Homo sapiens: one gene and its partners. The protein of the gene in region 7 interacts with the protein of the main gene of each other region in a pairwise test. Each region holds a gene or a part of one and is shown on either strand. Other genes may lie near its edges. The genes, in order: BOK, RGS20, MFHAS1, SAMD3, CHAT, DBF4 and HSPD1.

Region 1 (2,943 bases), about 44 Mb from region 7:
CCTTGGCGTTGCTCAAAGTGTCGTCGCCCACTGGGCACACAGTGCCCAGCCCCATGCCAGACTCCACAGGAGGAAGACAGGAGGGGACGGAAGTCTTGGGGTTTCTGTGCTGAGGGACACCTGTAGCCATGTGCGACATCTTGGGACATTGCCCTCTGCACCCCCAATTCAGCCTTCAGAGGAGACCACAGCCCCCGCAGACCACGTGACCTCAATCTCTCGAGATGCTAAAGCTAAGGCCCCAGCAGAGGGGTCTGAGCGCTGTCACCCCTGGCCGCTGATTTACACACCAGGCCAACACCCGCTGTACAGGAAAGAAGGCTAGACTCTCGGCAGGGGAGCCACCCTCCACACCCAGGGCCCAGCGGCAACTGCGGTCTGGCCGGAGCAGGGCAGGAAGTTGGGGGCGTGGAGACAGAGGAAGGGTTTGGCTCTGACACCCACCCCTCGGGGCCTTGCTTTTCCCACTCGGGAGGGCGGGGGCTGGGGCAGCGGGTCCTTAGCACAGGGGTAGGATCGGGGGTAAGTCAGTGCTGGATCTGGGCAGAGGAGAGTCCAGGGCCTGCCTGTAGGTCTCGGCCCTTGCCCCACCCCCTGCCTCACCCATCTCCCCCAGGAGTGCTCAGGTGACCACCCATCCGCCACTCCCTCCCGTACCTCTGCACCCTCGCACCCCAGCTCTCCCACCCCCACAGGCGCTCAGACACTCACCCATCCGCCACTCCCTCCTGTACCTCTGCACCCTCGCACCCCAGCTCTCCCACCCCCACAGGCGCTCAGACACTCACCCATCCGCCACTCCCTCCCGTACGTCTGTACCCTCGCACCCCAGCTCTCCCACCCCCCAGGCGCTCAGAGGCTCACCCATCCACCACTCCCTCCTGTACCTCTGCACCCTCGCACCCCAGCTCTCCCACCCCCACAGGCGCTCAGACACTCACCCATCCGCCACTCCCTCCCGTACGTCTGTACCCTCGCACCCCAGCTCTCCCACCCCCCAGGCGCTCAGAGGCTCACCCATCCACCACTCCCTCCTGTACCTCTGCACCCTCGCACCCCAGCTCTCCCACCCCCACAGGCGCTCAGACACTCACCCATCCGCCACTCCCTCCCGTACGTCTGTACCCTCGCACCCCAGCTCTCCCACCCCCCAGGCGCTCAGAGGCTCACCCATCCGCCACTCCCTCCCGTACCTCTGCACCCTCGCACCCCAGCTCTCCCACCCCCCAGGCGCTCAGACACTCACCCATCCGCCACTCCCTCCCGTACGTCTGTACCCTCGCACCCCAGCTCTCCCACCCCCCAGGCGCTCAGAGGCTCACCCATCCACCACTCCCTCCTGTACCTCTGCACCCTCGCACCCCAGCTCTCCCACCCACACGGGCACTCAGGCGCTCACCCATCCGCCGCGTCTCCGCAGCCAGGTTGCCAGGGTCTTGCGCACGAACTCCCCCAGGCAGTCCACGAGGGCGTGGACCATGGCAGGCTGGGCCTGCCTCACACAGTCCACGGCCAGCCCCGCGGCCACCGCATACAGGGACACCACCTTGCCCCACGTGATGCCTGCAGGGAGAGAGATGGTCAAGATCAGGACTTGAATCCCGCCCACGGGAGCACTTAAGGAAGGGGCTGGGCCTCTCTGAGCCGCTGTCCTGCTTGCCGTCCAGCTAATGACCAGGGACCGTCCCAAGGGGGGACCGCTCCCTGACAGGATGCCTGTCAGGTAGTTCTTGGGCAGGCAGGTTTCTCGGCCTCCACTGCACACCTGCCCAGCCCACGTCTGTGCAGGAGGCCGCAGGGACAACGTGGGGTGAGGCGAGGGAACTGAGGGCAGCAGCAGATGGAGTGAGCAGCCAGTGACCTCACGGGTGGCACCCCTGGGCTGCCTGTTCCCACAACAGGCCTGGCGTCCACATTTTACACATAAAGAAGCTGAGGCCCGCAGAGAAACTGCCTTCCCCAGACCCCTAACCTGCTGAGGCTGAACTGAGATGGGAGCAGCCTTGAAAGAGAGGACGAAAGATGGTGACAGCGGGGGAAAGAATAAAAGGCAGGACACGACGCCTCAACACGGAAAGACGTCTTATACGTGAGCGAGAAAAGAGAGGCTTTCAAAAAAGAACTATGAGCACAGAACTGGAACAGCTGATTCACAAAAGAAAATTATAATAAGAGACACGAAAAATGTTTACCTTCATTAATAACCAAAGAAAGGCAAATTAAAACAAAATGTAATCTGTTGCATTAAAAGCTTTTACGCCAGGCGCGGTGGCTCACGCCTGGAATCCCAGCACTTTGGGAGGCCGAGGCGGGCAGATCACAAGGTTGGGAGTTCAAGAGCAGCCTGACCAACATGGTGAAACCGTCTCTACTAAAAATACACAAAAAATTAGCCAGGCGTGGTGGCACGCGCCTATAATCCCAGCTACTCGGGAGGCTGAAGCAGGAGAATCACTTGAACCCGGGGAGGCGGAGGTTGCAGTGAGCTGAGATCGCGCCAGTACACTCCAGCCTGGGCGACAGAGCGAGACCCCGTCTCTAAATAAATAAATAAATACATGCTTTTAAATGGCAGTGTGAGGATTCAGGCCACTGCACAGCCTTGTAAACCTTGGTGGGAAGCCCAGCTTGAGGGCACTGGCAGTATCTGAATGGCCACAAAACATGCAGCCCAGCAGTGATCCCCGCAGGGAGTTAGCAGCGGTCCCCGGAGGGAGTCAGCAGTGGTCCCTGGAGGGAGTTAGCCTGAGGACACTGTACATGCAAAGATGAAGCACTGCTCTCCAATCCACCCTCATACAGCGGCCAACCTGGATTTGTTATGAAAACATAAATCAGCTCAAACAAACACTCAGTCACAGACATTCACAGCAGCCAATTCACAATTGCCAAAAGGTGGAAAGAACCCAAGTATCCTTCAACAGATAAATGGATACAAATGTG
Region 2 (3,500 bases), on a different chromosome or scaffold from region 7:
ACCAGAAGGCCTTACAGCAAAATGTTGAGAAAGATTCACAAGTACTTAGAAAAGAAATTGCCATTTACTTTTCTTGAAAATTGACTTGACTATGTATATTAATATGGATAAATCTCAAAAGTGTGGTGAAAAAAAACAAGGAAATTCACTATTAAAACAGTTGAAGTTTGCTGTGTACTTTTCCCCATCTCATTTCTTCCTCTCTTTACCCTAGAGAGAGCCACCATTTTTAACTTACTGTTTACCATTCCAATTCATAATTATGCTACTATATTATATTCATAAACATATTTTTAAACATAGTATAAATGTAATTATGTAACATGTATTGCTTTATAATTTTTTTTCCCTCTAGCATATGAATTTATTTATTTCTGAGACAAGGTCTCACTCTGTTGCCCAGGCTGGAGTGCAGTAGCATGATCATAGCTCACTGCAGCCTTGAACTCCTGGGTTCAAGTGATCCTTCCACCTCAGCTTCTAGAGTAGCTGGGACTACAGGCACATGCCACCATGCCGGGCTAACTTTTTTTTTTTTTTTTTTTAGTGGAGACATGGTCTCGCTGTGTTGCCCCAGCTGGTCTCGAACTCCTGGGCTCAAACAATCCTTCTGCCTTGGCCTCCCAAAGTGCTGGGATTACAGGCATAAGCCACCACGCCTAACTTATTTATTTGTTTAGTTTTGTTTTTCTAGTATATGAATTTAAGTGCTGTATGGTAGTGGATTGTATAACTATACCACAATATATTCATCCATTCTCCTGTCTATACCCTTTAGAACCATTTTAAATTTTTCTCACTCAGATGAATGCTGTAGTGAATCTTCTCATACATGTCTCCTTTTTTTGCAGGGGTGTGAGAAGTTTTTCCAGGGTATAGGTTTTTCTTTTCTTTTTTTTTTGTTTTTGTTTTTCAGACAGAGTCTCACTCTGTTACACACACTGGAGTGCAATGGCACAATCATCATTCACTGCAGCCTCAACCTCCCTGGGCTCAAGCGATCCTCCCACCTCAGCCTCCTGAGTAGCTGGGACTACAGGTGTGCGCCACCATGCCTGGCTAATTTTTGTGTTTTATTTTTTATTTATTTATTTTTTTGAGATGGAGTTTTGCTCTTGTTGCCCAGGCTGAAGTGCAATGGTGCAATCTCGGCTCACCGAAACCTCTGCCTCCCAGGTTCAAGCGATTCTCCTGCCTCAGCCTCCTGAGTAGCTGGGATTATGGGCATGTGCCCCCATGCCTGACTAATTTTGTATTTTTAGTAGAAACGAGTTTTCTCCATGTTGGTAGGGCTGGTCTCGAACTCCCGACCTCATGTGATCTGCCGGCCTCGGCCTCCCAAAGTGCTGGGATTACAGGCGTGAGCCACCGCACCCAGCTGATCTTTTTTTTAAGGTGGGAATTGATTTTTGTATATGGTGCTATGTAGGAATATAAATACATTTTTATATATTTGGATACCAAGCAGGATGACCAATTTTCCTGGTTTGCCTAGGGTTTTCAGGTTTTCTGGGCTATGGGACCTTTCAGTGCTAAAACTGAGAAAGTCCTATCAGTGGGGATGAGTTGGTACCCAAATACCAAGTATCCTGCTATTTACTGAATAGTTCATTTTCTCCTTTGCTGATGTCACTTTTATCACGTGTTGGTAAGGTTTTCTAGATTTATTGTCTTTCACTGATGTTAAAACTATAGGGTGTATTTTTGGACTAATTATGAATAACATTACTTTTGAAAGAAAATTTTCTTTTAATAATTTTTTCTAAGAAAGTCTGAATTATTTGATTGTATGTCATTGACATGAGATTGTTTACAGCTTTGGTTTCACACTTTTTAACACAAAATTCATTGCCACATTTTATATCAATATTTGACCCCGTTGTATCTATGATTGTTACTTGTTTCCTGAGTCTTTCCTCTGGGTTCCCTTTTTTTCCTCTGAAGTAGGCCCTTTCTTCGGTTCTTTTAGGTTTGCAGGCAGTAAACTCGGTTGGCCTTCGTATGTCTGAGAATGTCTTATTTTACCCACACTCTTGAATTATGGTTTGACGGAGTTTTCAGTTACTTTTCTCCAGCACTTTGAAGATATTGCTCTATTGTCTCTTCTACACACACCTAAGTACTACAGAAGTGTTGGCTATGATGGTGATGATAGTGTCTTAGGTACAGATACTTATTTTATTCGTCCTACTTGTTACCTGTAGGAGGAGCCTGCTCTGGGACCTGACCCGCCCTCTAGCCTTACACTATCCCGGGACAATACGTTGTTCAGGTCAGCATGTCAGCCGCCTCCCACACCCTGCGTGAGGCAGCAGAGAAAGGAGGGAGCGGAAGGTTTGAACGTCAGCTGGAGTCTCACCTGCACCTGGACATCCTGCACATCTCTAGGAGGATGGTCTCATTTCCCCACTGAGACCTACTGGCAGAGTGAGAATATAGGCCCCTAAATGCAGTCTGGCCATCACTGGTGTCTTCCTCCTTTAGGGCAGGCCCTGGACACCCACGTGTTTCCTCTGCCCACCACCAGCGCCTCTCCTCTGGCTTCCTGCAGAGCTGTCCAGATTCCTACCAGGGGCTGAAGTCTCACCTTGACACTGCCTAGCTCTTGTCAGCCCCATGGCCACGTTTCCTCTTGCTGTGGGAATGAAGAGACCATCGGTATCGGGATCCCCTTGGTGGATGTTCTATTGCTGTGTCCCTTCCACCAGATTGGAACTTCTTGGAAATGAATACTAGCCTGAGTTGGGCAGGAGCCACCAAACTTCCCCGGGCATTTCATTTTCAACTCCACTCTCCTCCCCAGGGATCAGTTCTGTTAGTTCCATTTCACGGTTCGTGATCAGTCCATTATCAGTTTTTCTTCTCTTCCAGCAGACAGTGAGGTCTTGGTCTAACTTACTGCCAAGCCTACATAAATTTAGGATGATTTGATTGCTGAAAGTGGTTCACAAACTTGGCTGGCACTAAGCACTTTTCATATCCAAGATTCCAAAGATGTAACCTAAAGTTCCCATGATTTTTAGGTGTAAATTATCTCCTTTTCTCCAGACCTTTAACAGCTACTCAAAGGGTCACAGATGTTTTACATTCAAGTCGTTTCTTTCCTTTTTAAAGCAATGACTGTCTGTGTGTCTTCCTCTACCCAGTAAGTTAGCATATATTTTAATATTTCTCTCTCTTTAAAACACATATTTTGACATTTCTCTTTATTACAAAACAAAATTTATGAAATGGAAGCAGCAGAAGGTAAAATCCAGGCTCCCTCTACTTCATCGCCCTAACCTTTAAGACCTATCTTAGATCCTAAGCCTTCATTACCACAGGAGTGCCTCGAGTCCAATTCTTTCTAACCATTTCTGCCCAAATGTTGATAGTCAATCGTGAACCGCCTGAGGTTGTTCTTTAGTTGTTTAACACACGTTGGCCTGATTTGAGGGATCTGAGCATAAACCCCTTGAGAGCTAGACAGATGCAGCCTGTTGTTATTTCTTGGGTGTCCC
Region 3 (3,500 bases), on a different chromosome or scaffold from region 7:
CCAGGAGGTGGAGGTTGCAATGAGCTCAGACAGCGCCACTACACTCCAGCCTGGGCAACAGAGCGAGACTCAGTCTCAAAAAAAAAAAAAAAAAAAAAAAAGAAAGGGCTCCCATGGATAGAAGCAAGTTAATAGGTAGATGAGAAGAAAAACAGAAATGTCCAATTCCTCCTTTCCCCACTCATTCCCCTCCTATAATACAGAGTTAAAGCCCCTCACCTCTTCACGGACAAAGGGGAATAACCTCAGAGTATGACATAAAATATCCACTAAATAAAAAATACTGGTTGGGTATGGTGGCTCACGCCTCTAATCCCAACATTTTGGGAGGCTGAGTGGGGAGGACCATTTGAGGCCAGGAGATCAAGACCAGCTTGGGCAACATAAAAAGGCCCTATCTCTATTTCACAAACACACACACACACACACACACACACACACACACACACACAAAAAGAAAAAAAAAATTAAAGAAAAAATACTTTAGGAAATTCTAAACTACTTGTGCAGAGATGGACTTAAGAGTCTATTCCAGGGTTTAAAGAAGAGGCACCTAATATTTAAAATAATTCAAATACTCCAAAGGCCTTTCTAGCCTTCTAGAACTCTATTCTGCACAGTATTTGTTTATCCTAGTGCCTGATTAAGGTTTTGATTTTTACATAAAACAAAGTCCCAGGGAGTTCAGAGGCCTATTCATAAAAAGAAAAGCCAAGAAGCATCAATATTAATAAAGCTTAACCAAAGAGATATTGAAAAACCTTTGTAAAATTAAAAACAATGACTAATTCAATCCAAACAACTAGGTCATGCTCAAATTCCAGTAATTCTAAAACTTAGATATAATAAGGCAAGAATTTTGCTTTGCTTCAGTGGTCAAAATGAAGGACCCATTCAAGGGTAAGACCAGTCATAGACGCACAATGGGAATGCTGGAGGAACACTGTGAGGGGGAGGGAGTTGGGAAGCTAAACAAAGCCAGATAATCATTACAATACTACCTGGGATTTTCACTGAGTGTGTGAATAACAAAGAAAAAGAGATAGTTCTCAGGCAGGGCATGGTGGCTCAAGCCTATAATCCCAGCACTTTGGAAGGCTGAGGCAGGCAGACTTTGAGACCAGCCTGAGCAACACAGCGAAACCCTGTCTCTACAAAACAACACAAAAATTAGCCAGGCATGGTAGGGTGTTTCTGGAGTCCCAGCTACTCAGGAGGCTGAAGTAGGAGGATCATCACCTGAGCCCAAGAGGTCGAGGCTGCAGTAAGCCATTATTGCCCCAATGCATTCCAACCTCGGTGACAGAGTGAGACCCTGCCCCCACCCCCCCAAAAAAAAAGTTATTTCTCACAAAAAGACCAAACTATCATTCAGCAAACATCTGAGAGGCTCTGCAGAAGCTACTAAGTCTCGGGTGTGTCTCTGGCTCAGAAGCAGCAAGTGAACAACCTAATCAAAGATATATCATGACGCAACCAAACACCAACAAAACAAGTCAAATATGCTGTGTTGTCGGAGAGGTACACTCCGTGTGCAAGAAACTGAGGGACAGAAGACATTTGGCATGAGATACAAAAAGGCATCAAGTTACTGAGTAAATGAAAGACAGTAAAGCTAAAGAAAGCCACATAACTCATTCTGTCTACTGATTTGGGTTGCTTTCTCCTTATTTTTTAAAATGACCTTAAATAATTTGGAGAGTAGGATATTTAGTGAAAATCTGCAGTCAATGCAAGTTTAACTCACTAAGACACACTCTTCCAATTCAAAAACACAGTATTCACTCATCTGCTTAAAAGGAATATCAAAGCACTTGAATCTTGCTGCAGGCCCGTGTCCTAACCACCACATCTTAATGTACCCTCACTCAACTTCAAGAGTACCAACTCTTTGAGTTTAGAGGTCATACTGGTAGAACAGAATAAAAGCATAAACAAATATCCCACAAGAAGAAACTTGCTCTAAGACAAGTATACAGGACCAACCAATGAGAAGGAAAACAGCAAAAGGAAGGGAATCCTGGCTACCAGCTATGGGCAGCAAGTCTGCAAAAAAGAAAGGGTACCTGCAGGAAGCAGGTAAAGACTTTCTTTTCGGAGCCAGGGTCTTGCCCTGTCGCCCAGGCTGGAGCGCAGTGGCACAATCTCAGCTCACTGCAACCTCCGCCTCCCAAGTTCAAGGGATTCTCGTGCCTCATTCTTCCCAGGAGCTGGGATTACAGGCATGAGCCACCATGCCCAGCTAATTTTTTTGTATTTTTTGTAGAGATGGGGTTTCACCAGGTTGACCAGGCTAGGATGTTGGCCAGGATGGAGAAAGCAGGTCAAGACTTTCACAGTGACATTTAGGCTTCATCATAGGCCATCTCCGAGTTTCCAAAAGAATCTCCTGTCACTCAACCCATTTGTCTTAAATAAGATGTCTTAAAAAGATAATCACGTTGTCAGATTACCTATTTTAAATAAGACAAATAGGTCTTCTCTCTGACAATGTGATTTATTTTTACAAAAAACTATGAAACTAGTGATTGCTGGATGTGCATTTTCCAATCATTTCTTTTTTTTTTTTTAAGAGACAGGGTCAGAGTGCAATGGCACAATCATAGTTCACTGCAACCTCAAACTCCCATGCTCAAGTGATTGTCCCACCTCAGCCCCCCAACTAGCTGGGACCACAAGTGTGCACGCTTAGCTGATTTTTATTTTTTATTTTTTTTTGTAGACACGGAGTCTGGCTACATTACTCAGGCTGGTCTCGAACTCCTTGACCCAAGTGATCCTCCTGCCTCAGCCTCCCAAAGCAAAGGGATTACAGCCCTGAGCCACTGCACGCTGCCCATTACTTTTCTTGTATAAACCAAAATAAGAAAAGAGAAATTTACCATTATACTTCCCGTGGTCAACTACAGTAGGGCAGCTCAGGCCAGAAAATCCAACAGGACAAGGCCAAAATAGGCTTTTCACATAAAAATACTTTAAAAGATATTAGTGCAACTTTATACATTTTTTCTGTATAAAATCAAGAGAGACAGTAATTTACTATTTACTTTTACTGTAACATCCCAAAGTTAAGAAAATTCAAAGTCCAACTTTTTCAGCGTTGCATATAAAATTGTTATAGTTTATAGGACAACTTAACGCTTTTATAAAACATAAAAGTAAACAATTTTTAATGTCCCCAGAAGCAAAATGACTTCTTAAAAAGACAAAGGTGGCCAAGCCTAGTGGCTCACGCTTATAATCCCAGCACTTTGCGAGACTGAGGTGGGTGGATCATCTGAGGTCAGGAGTTCAAGACCAGCCTGGCCAACCTGGCGAAACCCCCGCCTCTACTAAAAATACAAAAATTAGCCAGGTGTGGTGGCGCATGCCTCTAATTCCAGCTACTTGGGAGGCTGAGGCAGGAGAATCGCTTGAATCCAGGAGGCAGAGGTTGCAGTGAGTCAAGATCACTCCACTGCACTCCAGCCTGGGCAACAGAGCAAGACTCCATCTCAAAA
Region 4 (3,500 bases), on a different chromosome or scaffold from region 7:
ATATTTTTCTTCTGAGCAAAGGGAAATAAGAATTGCCTGTATTATTTTAATAGAAACATAAGTAGCAAATATCTGAATGCTTCTCTGTAACAGCATGTTCTCAGTGCTTTCCACGGATTAATCTACCTAATCCTCTCAGCAACCATACTGTGGCTTTCGCTTGTTTCCCCTTAATCTTCAGGTTGTAAGGAACTGTAATAGCCAGTCATCTCTGGCTGTTAGAAAAGTATGCCAAATGGACACATCTGCAAAATACAGTTTTAAAGCAAAAGCCTGTCAAACTTACGGTCTATACACTCCTTACATGTAGGGAGCACGTGTTAATATTAACAGTTCCCAAAGTGCCTAGCAGAGCACCACGTGTGACACAGCAATGTAATCTTGATTTTGTGAATGCTGAGTGAATTAGTGGAGGTTGGTAAGGCTGTTGTGATCACTAATGTCGTAGCCTTAGGGGTCTTCATTGGAGTGTGGCCTACAAAGGCTTAGTGATGAATATAAATGGACTATGTTAAGCAGCTTTTCAAAGAACCATTGGTGACAGTAAGGTGGAGGTCTGTCATAGCTTATGTGAGGAGCAGAGAGATTTCAGACCTGATGCTGTCCCCTGTGCTTTTGTCCAGGCCTCCTGCTGTGGCATAGGTGTATCTTCCGCACCATTCCTCAAGTATTTCACCCTTTATATCCAAAATATGGAGTATGGTTTTTGTAATGACTGTACTTATTGAATAGAGTTGCCTGTTGATTGTTTTATTTATTTATTTATTTATTTATTGAGACAGAGTCTTACTTTGTCGCCCAGGCTGGAGTGCAGTGGCACAATCTTGGCTCACTGCAGCCTCTGCCTCCCAGGTTCAAGTGATTTTCCTGCCTCAGCCTCCCAAGTAGCTGGGACTACGGATGCACGCCACCACGCCTGGCTAATTTTTATATTTTTAGTAGAGATGGGGTTTCACCATGTTGGTCAGGCTGGTCTTGAACTCCTGAGCTCAGGTGATCCACCTGCCTCAGCCTCCCAAAGTGCTGGGATTACAGCTGTGAGCCACCGTGCCCGACCTGATTGTTTTAGACAAAAGAACGAATCATTTTCGGTTTTTCCAGGAAGTACCTCCCTGACTCAGCCCTAGGCAGCTGGGATTTCCAATTTATAAAACTCTTGTGTGCCTCCTAAAATAAAAGCAAGTTTGACCTCGCAAATACCTAGTTAACAAATGATCCCGTAAGAGGACAGTTGTCCCTGCACCAAACCACCCCCACCGCCTGTTGCTCCTGCCATTGTGAAAACACTGAGTGCTTAGGGAGCTGGTGGAGACAGGGTGGCAGAACAGCAGCAGCCGGGGTGGGCGGTGGTCCTGGCTGTTAACACTGACCCCCCATCACCTCCATGCTCATTAACCTCCTTCCTCAAAAAACTTTCTTTCAACAAGGCATTTAAAAATTCAGAATGTAACCATTTACTTTATTAGATTATCTAAAATATTATCAACTAGGAATGTGTTACTGGGATCTACTGGATGTTGCACAAGACAAGTAGGAGGGAGTTGAGAAGGAAAATACCAAACACAAACTGAAACCCTTCCCCAAATTTTCCAAAAAATCCTTTCAGATGCCATAGTTTCTGCCTTCCTGAGAAACAATTTCAATCATCATCTCTTTAAGTGAAGTACGTGAGAATCGCCAGCTAATAAAGTCTCAAAAAATTAAAAAAATCGGCCAGGCATGGTGGCTCATGCCTGTAATCCCAGCACTTTGGGAGGCCGAGGCGGGCAGATCACCTGAGGTCAGGAGTTCGAGACAAGGCTGACCAACGTGGAGAAACACTGTCTCTACTAAAAATACAAAATTAGCCGGGCGTGGTGGCACATGCCTGTAATCCCAGCTACTAAGGAGGCTGAGGCAGGAGAATCGCTTGAACCTGGGAGACGGAGGGTGCGGTGAGCCGAGATTGCGCCACTGCACTCCAGTCTGGGCAACAAGAGTGAAACTCCGTGTTAAAAATAAATAAATAAATAAATTTAAAAAATAAAGAATTTGAGTTTGGTTTTGGCCCAAATGGAGTAACTGGTACTGGTCTAGTCTTCCCACTGTTAACATGGATAAAGCTGGAAAAAAAAAATATGTATGAGGCAACTGCACTCAGGCATTAAGGTACAGGCAATGCAGGACCCTGATCCTTGGTAACGGAAAGACATAAGATGTGCCTCAGTTTTGTGCATGGGTTACTTTCTAGCTCACTGTACAGAATGGTGGGAGGCAAGCAGCATGCGGAGGTCTCATGGAGCTGCACAGGAAGAGATTAAAGTTGAGGAATGATGAAGCAGCTGGCCTTTGTAGGACAGGCACTGGAGGAAAGTGGGCTGGGCCGAAGTCTACACACGGATCCCCTGGGGATCCTTGGCTGAGAGCCGAGACTTCACACAGTGTTGCTAATAAGAATTCAGGCTAGGTGTGGTGGCTCACGCCTGTAATCCCAACACTTTGGGAGGCTGAGGCAGGCAGATCACTTGAGGTCGGGAGTTCGAGACCAGCCTGGCCAACATGGTGAAACCCTGTCTCTACTAAAAATACAAAAATTAGCCGGGTGTGGTGGCACACACCTGTAATCCCAGCTACTCAGGAGGCTGAGGCAGGAGAATGGCTTGAACCTGGAAGGCAGAGGCTATAGTGAGCCGAGATTGTGCCACTGGACTCCAGCCTGGGCGATGGAGTGAGATTCTGTCTCAAAAAAAAAAAAAAAAGAATTCTGGCCCAGTGTGTAGAGACCCTGCAGAACACCTCAGCATTCATCTGAGACTCCAGAAAACAATGCCTCATGAGTGAGAACCATGCCTAAGTTTGAGCCAGGACCTTAGCTAGGACTAAGGACAAACAACAAAACAGAATTGCCGAAAGAAATGATAAAATCAAGTCTGACAGGACCAGAAGATCCACCATAATTTATCTGCCTATCAGAACAAAATTTAACACCCTTTAAAGGAACATAATTTAATCCAGACTCCCCACTAGTGGATCACTAGAGGTTACAGTGAGCGGCGCCATTCCCATTTCCAACTCTTGGTTCCTGGACCCATGAATTCTGGCTATGGAAGAAACTGCACTGTATGCTGGATGCTGATTCAGAGCTTATACAGCCTGGGAGAACCTTGTCCCAGCCCCACAAGGTATTGCCACCTAGCTGGTGCTGTAACTGAGTCTTCAACAGGCCACTCCACCAGTCTGGCAAGCCAGCTGCTTCAGGACAGGACGGTGGGGAACAGGATAAGACCAGTAAATTCCATGTATCATCACCATAGGGAATCTCAGCAGAGAAATGAAATACACGCACACACACACGCGCGCACACACACACACATGAACCAAATTGAAATTCAGAGCTGAAAAGAACAGTTATCTGAAATGAAAACATCACCATGTGCGTAGGCTTAAAAGCATATTGGAAAATGAAAAGAAAGGAGCTGTGAATCTGCAGATAGATTAATAGAAATTATCCAGTCTGAGTA
Region 5 (3,500 bases), on a different chromosome or scaffold from region 7:
AATTAATGTCAGGGTGGTTTTCTTAAAAATCTCTGTCTTAAAACAAAACAGATAATGGAAAAACCCAAAGTAACCATCTCTCTTCACCTACTGGAGCATGTAGGAGGGGAGGAGAGGGGAAAAGATGCAGAAAAAATGCAAATGGCAGGACCCCGGGAAGGGGCCAGGTCCTCTGCAAACCCACCGGCACCAGGCACCATCTGCTTGGGGCTGTGCAGTTTACTCATCTTGGACTGGCCCTGATGCCGCCTGCTAAGCAGAGAGTGGCAGCAACTCCAGGGCAGTCACAGATAAATTTTTTTTTCCTTTCAGAATAGCTGGACACAATTTTCTGAGCTCAACAGAAGGCTGCCCCTGGGCACGAAAGCAGAAATGTGTTTGTGGGCCCAAGTCACTATATTTTAAATGGACTTGGGCTCTGTGGTGTGTGTGGGAGGAGTGGGTGCTTGTAGGACTGTACGGCTCAGTGGAGACACTGGGAATGCCACGATAAGAATGCTCTGAATCTCAAAACACAGCCTCCTCTCCCCCAAAAAAGAAAAGAGGTAATGACCTGGAGTTAGCCTCTTCCTTCCTAACTCATTAGGTACGTTGCATGTAATAGAGTGACTCATCCTTTCCTTGGGCAGAAGCATCACCTGGACATACTAGGTCCTGCTAGGGAAGGAGACATGAACACTAAGCTTCCAAGGACCACAGAAGGAGTCCTTAGTGTGGTTCCCCAGTGCATCCAGGCTGCCTCTGAGCCAGGCAGGTCCCATTTCCCAGTGTGCAGGCCCAAAGCCACCTTGAAAATGATGATTCCCATGCATGAAGAGGGGACCCTTTCCTCCTAACACTCCGGCTCTGTGTGATGTCTCTGTATGGTCTGTGAGTTGGACCCTGAGGACAGGGAGCTGTGGAAAGCTGGGGTAAGGGACGGGAGTGGGGATCTGCAGGGTCTGGCTGTTCTAGAGGCTGGGTTTGGGAGGTGAAACCTAGTGGCAGGAGTCAAGGTTGGTGTCCCTGGCTGGGCCTCGTGGCTTTTTCCTTTGTTGCCAATGGCTTGCTCTCAGTAGGCGGCAGCAGACTGCAGAGGTCTCTCATGTCAATGAGGCTTTCTTCCACAGCTTTTGCAAACTTGCTAGAAGAAGTCTCTTTGCAGCTGTGAAAGCTAGAGATGCAGAAAAGGATGGTCTCTGGCTGGGGGTTGTAGCAGGCACCATACCCATTTGGGACCACAGGACCATAGCAGCAGAACATCTCCGTGGTTGTGGGCACCTGGAGGAGAGGACAGGTCAGGAGCTGCTTGTTCTGGAATGCAGCCCGCCAGCCTCGACTGGGCTTGGCTTCTCTGTTTTCCACCTGGGGGTTTGACTGAATTAACCAAATCAAGTGATTGCTTTAGCATGGATGGACACAGCCAGAGTCATAAAAACAGACCCATCTAACTGCATGATATCAGAGGATGAGGGGCCCCAAGCCCACTCCCTGGTGTGCAATCTGCTCTACTTGTGGAGTTGGAAGCTCCCGGAGTGACCTGGTGCTAGGTCTTGGGCTGAGTCTCCACTTCACCTGGGGGCCATTTGAGGCACGGAGGCAATCAGGTAATTTACTAAATGGTCCCCTGGTGGCACCCCATAGTTAGATGCTTTCCGGAGGGAGGAATTTATGAACTGGAGGAAATCTGGCCCATCCTCTGTGTCGATTTCCCCCAGATCCTTAATTACTGTCAGTATTGCCTGGCTTCTCTGATTTCTCCCTGCAGCCTGGCCATGCACAATTACCCAGAGTTGGGTGTTTCAAAGATTGCCATCAGTTTTACTTATGCACCTAGTATGTTTTGAATCAGAGTGCTGAGATTTTGTAATCCAGATCACAAACCAAGAAAGTATGTTTCTGAAAGCATTCAAGCCATAAATGCTGCTTTCCAGTTGGAAAACAACAAAACTCCCACACCCCAGATTAATTTTATTAGCTGGTCCTTGGGAAAAAAAATAGAAAGGATTCTTGGGCAGGTGCAGGGCCTGGTTTGTTTTAAACCTACAGGTTTCTGGTGCTGTGTGCTGAGGCCTTTGGAAGTGACACTGGCTGTTTTAATGGGGCAGAACAAACCATTAGTCTTGCTAATAGAGTCACCACATTGTCAGATAAATTTGCCGTGCAATAGCCGAAGGCCATAAAGCCATTCCAAAGCACTTTTTGCCCATGGATGATTTCCTGAGAAATTTATGGTGCTGTGTTCTGTCCTCGTTTATTCACGTCTGCATGCTCACTGCCATAATGACAACATCCCATTACTGAGTGGGCTTCTGTCCTCAAACACAGCTTATCAACTCCAGTACTGCCCATCCAGCCTTTCGCAGATGAGGTGGCATTTTAGTAAATTGATGGCTGTGGGGCATTTCCCCTCCTAAACCACGACCTCTCTCTAATGGATTGCATTCTGTCTTTGTGGCAGTGGCTCTCATACAGGACACGCTGAGGCACTGGTTAGATGTTGGGCTGGCCACGAATGTTCTGCTGTTGGTTGCGTGGCCCTTTATAATAATATCTGTGACCTATTTAGAGGGCCCTGTCCATGCCAGGCCCTGGGCTGGGCTTTCTCCCTACATAATTGTATCTGGCCAAGCCAAGACTTCACTGCAGACCTGCTGGGCATCAGAGCCCGTGGAAACCGCGGCAATAGATTGAAAGGTAGTAAGGTGTAATGGTTAGGGCACCAGAATGGGTATGTTCCTGTACTGTCTCCACCTCGGCTAAGTAGGGTCTGCTGATTACTCCCATTTAGGAGATGGGAAACCTTCTTCTTCCTTTTTTCTTTTTTTGAGACAGGGTCTCACTCTGTCACCTGGGCTGGAATGCAGTGGTGCAATCAGGGCTCACTGCAATCTCCACCTCCCCAGCTCAAGCAATCCTCTTATTTCAGCCTCTTTAGTAGCTGGGACTTCAGGCACGCACCACCATGCCCAGCTAATTTTTAAAAATAGGGAGATGAGGTCTCCCCATGTTGCCCAGGCTGGTCTCAAACTCCTGGGCTGGAGCAATCCTCCTGCCTCAGCCTCCCAAGGTGTTGGGATTATAGTTGTAAGCCACCAAGCCTGGTCAGTAAACCATCTTCTAATGAACATTCAGATCATTTTGCTGAAGATCACATAGTTCAGAAAAAGCAGAGGCAGGATTTGCCTGATTCCAGCTAGTGGGCTTGTTGTCACTGCTCTTTAGAAAGCTTACTGACTACACTACTCTTGGGCGATAGCTGCACGGGGCCGTACCTGGCTAGTGGAGAGGACAAACCGGTTGCTCATCAGGTAGGTTTCATCCATGAACATCTCGGGCAGCTCCTTGCACATGGCCCGGGCCAGCTCCCGCAGTGCCAGCAGGTGGTTGTCAATGGCCATCCCTGTTATGGCCTGTGTAGTTGGGGACAAAGAACAGGAGATGAGAAGTGGGCCTCCTGCACCTCCTTGTTCCCTGCTCTGTAGTCTACAGGACTGCTGGTGACTCCAGCAGCCACGGCT
Region 6 (3,500 bases), on a different chromosome or scaffold from region 7:
TGTGATCTCAGCTCATTGCAACCTCTGCCTCCCGGGTTCAAGTGATTCTCCTGCCCCAGCCTCCCAAGTAGCTGGGACTACAGGCACGCACCATCATGCCCGGCTAATTTTTGTATTTTTTTTAAGTAGAGATGTGGTTTCACTATGTTGGCCAGGCTGGTCTTGAACTCCTGACCTCGTGATTCACCCACCTCAGCCTCCCAAAGTGCTGGGATTACAGGCGTGAGCCACCGCACCCAGCCGTTACTTCACTTTTTAAATAAAGTACTAGGAAAACTCGTTGAAATGCCATAACCAACAATTATTTTGGAATCGCTGGTGTATTGTCTCCTTGCTCCAAAAAAGCATTAACTCAGAGAATGCATGGTCCTTTCTTGATCTCTTTTCCATTCTTTCTTCTATGTATTGTATCTCTTTTTTCAAGTGATAGCTCCTTTCTGACTCATTTCTTCTGTTTTCTCCTCATTTTCCTTAATTTTCAAATGGCTATAATAGGTAAGTCGAGGAGAATATTGTAAAATAATAACTTAATTACACTTCAACCTAAAAACTGAAATAAACATTTTATCTCTCATTTGATCCTATCCCACCTCACACCCAATTAAATCAATTTAATTTGTCTTTCCTTGCATCTTTCAATTTACTGGCCATGGAGTGGTAGGGATGTGATTTCAATAATTCTAGAATAGGGGCTGGCAACCTTTTTATGCAAAGGACCAGACAGTACACATTTTAAGCTTTGTTGGCCATATGGTCTCTACAGCAACTATTCAATTCTGCCTAAAACACAACAACTACAGATTATACCTAAACAAACAGGTATGGCTGTGTTCCAATAAAACATTATGACAATGAAATCTGAATGTCATAAAATTTCTACTTGTCACAAAATATTCTTTTGATATTTTTACACAACTATTTGAAAATGTAAAAACCATGCTTAACCTGCAGGTTGTACAAAAAAGGCAACAGACTAGATTTGGCCCATGGGCCAGAGTTTGCTGACCCCTGCTCTGAAAATTAAAAAGGTTTCTATTTCTTCTTCAAAGAATGATCTGCTCTTAACTTTTTAGTTGTAAATTATTCTAAAAACTACACGCCATCCCTAAATACAAGGGTATACCTAAGCAATCAGAGTATGATTACACAAGAACTATTAGGAAAAACCCACCTTCCTAAAAGACAGCAACTTTATTGAGGACTAGAGAGCCACACATCATGTGGCTTTGCAAATGTTCTACATAAGTAAACTCTACTGCCACCTTGCTATTAAAAACCAGGAGATCTTCAGGATATAGCCCTTCTGAGTCTCAAAGCATATTTAAGAGACTTACTGTGTCTGGTGACTTAAATGAACTTCCATCATGGCTGGGATGAGGTGAAGTGGTTTCTGCAGTATATGCAGATTCTGGACTTGGTACAGGAGAAATTCGACCCAAGGTTTGTGCAAATTTAGCTTCCTTCTTATTTGAAATAAGATAACTGATATCTTTGCTGAGAAATTCTTCAACTCGCTAGAAGAGAACAAAGTATTTTTATTTATAAATTTGTTTTAAGAAACACGGTCTCACTGTGTTATCCAGGCTAGAGTGCAGTGGCACAATCATAGCTCACTGCAGCCTCAACCCCCTGTTCTCAAGTGATCCTCCCGCCTTGGCCTTCTGAACAGCTGGGACTATAGGCACATGCCACCAAGGTATTTTCAACTAGGTCATAAAAACCATAAACTGTTTCATATGCCAAGCACAGTAAAAAATTTCAATTTGATGCAATTATTTCGTAAATTGGTGGTTTTTATACTGTATTTTTCTGAACCTAGATCTCTGAGGAAGTATAAGAGCTCCTATAACAGCACAACAGCAGCATGTGCTGGATACTATTCTTAAATACTTTATATATGTTAATTAACTTAATCTATGGAACAGCCTCATGATACTATCTACATTTTCTGCAGGATAAAAAGTGAAGAGAGGTGACTTGCTTAATGTTACCCAGTAGCAAATAATATAATTTGAACATAGGCATTCTGACTCAAGCCCATGATCTAAAGCAGCAGTGTCCAATACAACTTACCAAAGCATTTGAAATGGCCTTGGTAGTGTGATTAAGCCACTGAATTTTTTGTTTCTTAAGAGATGGGGTCTTGTTATGTTGCCCAGGTTGGCCCTGAACTCTTGGGCTCAAGAGAGCCTCCTACCTCAACCTCCCAAGTACCTGAGAGTACAGGCACACACTACTGCGCCTAGCTCAAGCCACTGATTTTTAAATTTGATTTTAAAGACTTTAAATTTAATAGCCACATATCACTAATGGTTACCATAGCAGACAATACAAGTCTAAATCAATCATTATTACACCTTCCCTTGAGGCTTCAACTTACAGGATGGAGGGAACCTTTACGCTTAAGAGTGTAAGACTGTTTGAATAGAATTTCTTTACTAAAATGTTTGAAAACCACCGCCTAAGTATCTGAATTTACTTATAAAGACATGTACCAAAGTGAAGGTTATTAAAGATCGCCAGGGTCAGGAAAATAAAAATAGGGAGAAGTAAATACTAAGTAGAATTACTAATATTATTAGAAAAATACATAGTATAAATATGTATACTATAAATACCCACTAAGCAGAAGTAAACTGTGAATCATTAATAAGCAGTAACAATTTACATCCATGAAAGACTTCTCAGAATATTTTAAATAGCTGTATCTATTTTCTATAGGATCCCACACTATAAATGATAATAAAAATGAAGTGTGTAACAGATAAGTTAACTTCATCTAAGCATTAAGCAGCATTTGCTACTGAGACCAGTGGCCTCCTTGGTTAAGTGCAAATCATTTCTTTTCCGACCAACATTCATTTTCATTGAACAGTAAATAATGTACCTACATTTATTTATTCCAGGGATTAGACTCAAATGCCTATAAGGGCCAGGCAATAATACAAATAATTCACACATCAAATACTGCCTTCATTTTCATAAATATGAGGCCCTAATAATGTCAGAGGTTCTAATTTTTCATAAGAAACCCGATCTCCTATACACTTTTATTGTGATAAATATAAAATTAGCCATTTTAACCATTTTTAAGTGTACAATTTAACGGCAGTAAGTACACTCACATTATGCAACCATCACTACTAAAACATTTCTATAACTTTTCCATGATCCCAAACTGAAAGTCTGTACCCATTAAACAGTAACTCCTCATTCCTCATTTTTCCCAGCCCCTCATAACCTTTATTCTACTTTCCATCTCTGAAATTGGCTATTCTAGATAACTCATATAATGGAATCCTACATTTGTTCTTTTGTAACTGGCTTCCTTCACTTAGCACGTTTTTTGTGGTTCACCCATGTTGTAGCATGTATTAGAATTTCATTCCTTTTTAAAGCTGAATAATATTCTATTGTATGTATATACAACCTCTTCTTTATCTATTTACTTGTTGGACATTAAGGCTGTTCACACTTTTTAGCTATTGTGAATAATAAAT
Region 7 (3,500 bases):
CAAGACACCCTGTCTCAAAAAAAAAAAGAAACCCCACAGATTTAAGTCAATAAGAATAGTCAATATAGATCAAGTCAAGAATAGTCAAGACAGATCAAGACACTGTCTCCAAAAAAAACAAAAAAAAGGAAACCCCCTTATTCAGTCAATAAGATTTAGTCAATATAGAATAGTCAGTAAGCTCATTCTTAGGCCAGACTTGTGGCAAATTAACGGGAATTTAATCCAACCCCTACCTTCCAAAGAGCCAAAAGAAACAGATAGTTGTAGTATCTAATTGTGAAATGTTAAACTATCTATAAATTCCAGACAAGTATAAACATTCAGCAAACCATTATCACATTTATTTTACTTACTGCACCACCAGTAGCAATAGCCATATCTTTAAGCTGGTTCTTTCTATTGTCACCAAACCCTGGAGCCTTGACTGCCACAACCTGAAGACCAACCTTTAGCCTGTTAAGAATAGTTGATAGTAAGATTTAAATGAAATAAAAATGCCTATCTGTTTAATTCCCCTCAAGCTGTTACTAGATTACTTAGGACTCCCTAAGTAATCTGGTTTGGTTTTTGTGTTTTTTTGTTTTTTTTTTGCTTCCTAGCAATTTTTGATCAAATTAAGACAGGAAGTATCTGAGACAGTTTAGGCTATTTTCTATTAATTATACTTGTCCATATCCGTTTACCTTCTTAATAAACTGTTGGCCTGGCCGGGCGTGGTGACTCAGGCCTGTAATCCCGGCACTTTGCAAGGCCCAGGCAGGTGGATCACGAGGTCAGGAGTTCGAGACCAGCCTGGCCAAGATGGTGAAACCCTGTCTCTACTGAAAATAACAAAAATCAGCCAAATGTGGTAGCAGGCACCTGTAATCCCCACTACTCAGGAGGCCGAGCAGCAAAAATCACATCACAGTAAGTTATAGGATACAGTGATAACTATTATGAATGGTAGAAAAACAGTAATTACTAAATATTACATTTGAGGGTCATTTAATAAACATCTCCATATATTAATGCTGAGTTTTGAATGAGCAATGTTCTGAATTCACTTCTTTTATAAATGTTATACAAAAAGCTGACAGTATTGTTAAGCTCACCTGAAATTTTTACCAGGTAAATGAATACTTGGAATGTGTAATCAAATGTCCATTTGAGAGCAGATTGTGAAACAGAAGCAACGTTCAAACTTCAAGACAGCTGGTCTATTTTATTAAGGACCCAAATAAAAATCAGAGGAATAAGCTATATGCTATGTAAACTGGATATCCCACTTTTCAACTAGCAGTAAAATGGCTTAATGAAAACTCTGTAGGCTTGTTTTTTTCTGGCCTCAAGTCTTTTTTTTGTGTGTTTTTTTTTTTTTTTGAGACAGAGTCTTGCTCTGTCGCCCAGGCTGGAGTGCAGTGGCGAGATCTCGGCTCACTGCAACCTCCGCCTCCTGGGTTTACGCCATTCTCCTGCCTCAGCCCGCCACCACGCCCAGCTAATTTTTTGTATTTTTAGTAGAGACGGGGTTTCACCGTATTAGCCAGGATGGTCTCCATCTCCTGACCTCATGATCCACCCGCCTCGGCTTCCCAAACTGCTGGGATTACAGGCATGAGTCACCACGCCCAGCCAAGTCTTTTCTTAATCCCTCCAAAAAAGCAAATCCAAGCTAAGAAAAACATTCCAGGGTAAGGCAGCTCATTAGAGCTTTTGGGTCAGATGAGCACGTGTAATGTCTAAAACGTACCTGTTAATGTATGCATTTCTACTATAACAAAATGGAAAGAAAAGTCTTGCTTCTGACATACTTCAATTCTGAGATAAGGAAGAACAAACATTTTAATAATGCCCTTAGATTGTCTGCAGCATGAACATTACCTGTCTTAAAGTTTAAACTAATAGTAAACTATAGCTTAAAATGTAGATTTAAATAAGTGACTAGACCTCACCTTATTTTAGATTGGGTGCTATTTTCTCTACTTCAGACTATTTAGTAAACATTTAACAACAGACTAAATACTTGATCACAGCCAAGGGTAGTGGCTCATGCCTGTAATCCCAGCACTTTGGGAGGCTGAGGTGGGAGAATCACTTAAGATTCACCAACAGTTTAAGACTAGCCTAGGCAACATATTGAGGCAACATATTGAGACCTCGTCTCTACAAAAAAATTAAAAGATCAGCCAAGTGTGCTTGTGCAAGTGTGTAGTCCCAGCTACTTGGGAGGCTGAGGCAGGAGGATTGCTTGACCCCAAGAGTTCAAGGCTGCAGTGAGCTATGATCGTGCCGCCGCAGGCCAGCCTGGGTGACAGAGTCTGTCTCTCAAAATAAATAAAAATATTCGATGGTGAAATACACTTACATCTGAGTTATTTATTTAGAGACAGAGTCTCGCTTTGTTGCCCAGGCTGGGGTGCAGCAGCACAATCTCGGATCACTGCAACTTCCGCCTCCCAGATTCAAGTGATTCTCCTGCCTCAGCCTCTGAGTAGCTGGGATTACAGGCACACGCCACCATGCTCTGCTAATTTTTATATTTTTAGTAGAGACGGGGTTTCACTATGTTGGCCAGGCTGGTCTGGAACTCCTGATCTCAGGTGATCCACCCGCCTGTGCCTCCCCAAGTGCTGGGATTATAGCTGTGAGCCACCATGCCTGGCTCTGAGTTATTTGGAAGTTAGTTGTTTACTTCCCTGTTCTATGCAAAATAATATTCTGAAAATTTACATATTTTTAACCAGAAAAACCTTAAAAAAACAAAACAAAACAAAACAAAAAACAAGATTGACACTTGAACCCCGGAGGCTTGAGCTGAGATTGAGCCACTGCACTACTGCACTCCAGCCTGGGTGACAGAGACTCTGTCTCCAAAAATAAAAATAAAAAATAAAAAAATTACAAGGCCGGGCGCAGTGGCTCACACCTGTAATCCCAGCACTTTGGGAGGCTGAGGCGGGCGGATCACGAGGTCAGGAGTTTGAGACCAGCCTGGCCAATATGGTGAAACCCTGTCTCTACTAAAAATACAAAAATTAGTCAGGTGTGGTGGCACGCACCTGTAGTCCCAGCTGCTTGGGAGGCTGAGGCAGAACTGTTTGAACCTAGGAGATGGAGATTGCAGTGAGCCAAGATTATGCCACTGCACTCCAGCCTGGGCCAGGGAGTGAGACTCTGTCTCAAAAAAAAAAAATACAAGATTCAGTCATGTGCCTTCAAAACAACTGTAAACACTTGCAAAATACAGAAAGGTACCCATGTGCTAAATTAGTCTATTCTATGAGAAAGCTGATCAAAATAGTAAAGACTTTGGGGTTCCTTCAAAAACACAACCATAAGGATACATTAGAGCACACCTGATTTACACAATTACAATTCTAGATACAAACCCAACTGGATCAAATGTGGAGGTACACATGATGGAAACTGCAAACAGCAATACAAATAATTCTGTCTTTCACCGAGAAATATAAATCAACAAATACCACTGCTTATTACCTATTCAAGACGAGTGT

Evidence for each region.
Region 1: the proteins of HSPD1 (region 7) and BOK interact in binary tests that used the Homo sapiens proteins (3 or more experiments, as listed by UniProt).
Region 2: the proteins of HSPD1 (region 7) and RGS20 interact in binary tests that used the Homo sapiens proteins (3 or more experiments, as listed by UniProt).
Region 3: the proteins of HSPD1 (region 7) and MFHAS1 interact in binary tests that used the Homo sapiens proteins (3 or more experiments, as listed by UniProt).
Region 4: the proteins of HSPD1 (region 7) and SAMD3 interact in binary tests that used the Homo sapiens proteins (3 or more experiments, as listed by UniProt).
Region 5: the proteins of HSPD1 (region 7) and CHAT interact in binary tests that used the Homo sapiens proteins (3 or more experiments, as listed by UniProt).
Region 6: the proteins of HSPD1 (region 7) and DBF4 interact in binary tests that used the Homo sapiens proteins (3 or more experiments, as listed by UniProt).

What each region holds. Positions count from the first base shown.
Region 1 is NC_000002.12:241,568,745-241,571,687, reverse strand, and holds part of BOK (bcl-2-related ovarian killer protein), read right to left. Parts: intron 1,564-2,943; coding exon 1,400-1,563; intron 1-1,399.
Region 2 is NC_000008.11:53,939,872-53,943,371, reverse strand, and holds part of RGS20 (regulator of G-protein signaling 20), read right to left. Parts: intron 1-3,500. UniProt on the Homo sapiens protein: Inhibits signal transduction by increasing the GTPase activity of G protein alpha subunits thereby driving them into their inactive GDP-bound form.
Region 3 is NC_000008.11:8,883,631-8,887,130, forward strand, and holds part of MFHAS1 (malignant fibrous histiocytoma-amplified sequence 1), read right to left. Parts: intron 1-3,500. UniProt on the Homo sapiens protein: Probable GTP-binding protein. Functions in innate immunity and more specifically the inflammatory response as a regulator of the Toll-like receptor TLR2 and TLR4 signaling pathways.
Region 4 is NC_000006.12:130,149,952-130,153,451, reverse strand, and holds part of SAMD3 (sterile alpha motif domain-containing protein 3), read left to right. Parts: intron 1-3,500.
Region 5 is NC_000010.11:49,662,537-49,666,036, reverse strand, and holds part of CHAT (choline O-acetyltransferase), read right to left. Parts: intron 3,393-3,500; coding exon 3,255-3,392; intron 1,261-3,254; coding exon 991-1,260; 3' UTR 1-990. UniProt on the Homo sapiens protein: Catalyzes the reversible synthesis of acetylcholine (ACh) from acetyl CoA and choline at cholinergic synapses.
Region 6 is NC_000007.14:87,882,993-87,886,492, reverse strand, and holds part of DBF4 (protein DBF4 homolog A), read right to left. Parts: intron 1,515-3,500; coding exon 1,335-1,514; intron 1-1,334. UniProt on the Homo sapiens protein: Regulatory subunit for CDC7 which activates its kinase activity thereby playing a central role in DNA replication and cell proliferation. Required for progression of S phase.
Region 7 is NC_000002.12:197,489,841-197,493,340, forward strand, and holds part of HSPD1 (60 kDa heat shock protein, mitochondrial), read right to left. Parts: coding exon 3,484-3,500; intron 457-3,483; coding exon 357-456; intron 1-356. UniProt on the Homo sapiens protein: Chaperonin implicated in mitochondrial protein import and macromolecular assembly. Together with Hsp10, facilitates the correct folding of imported proteins.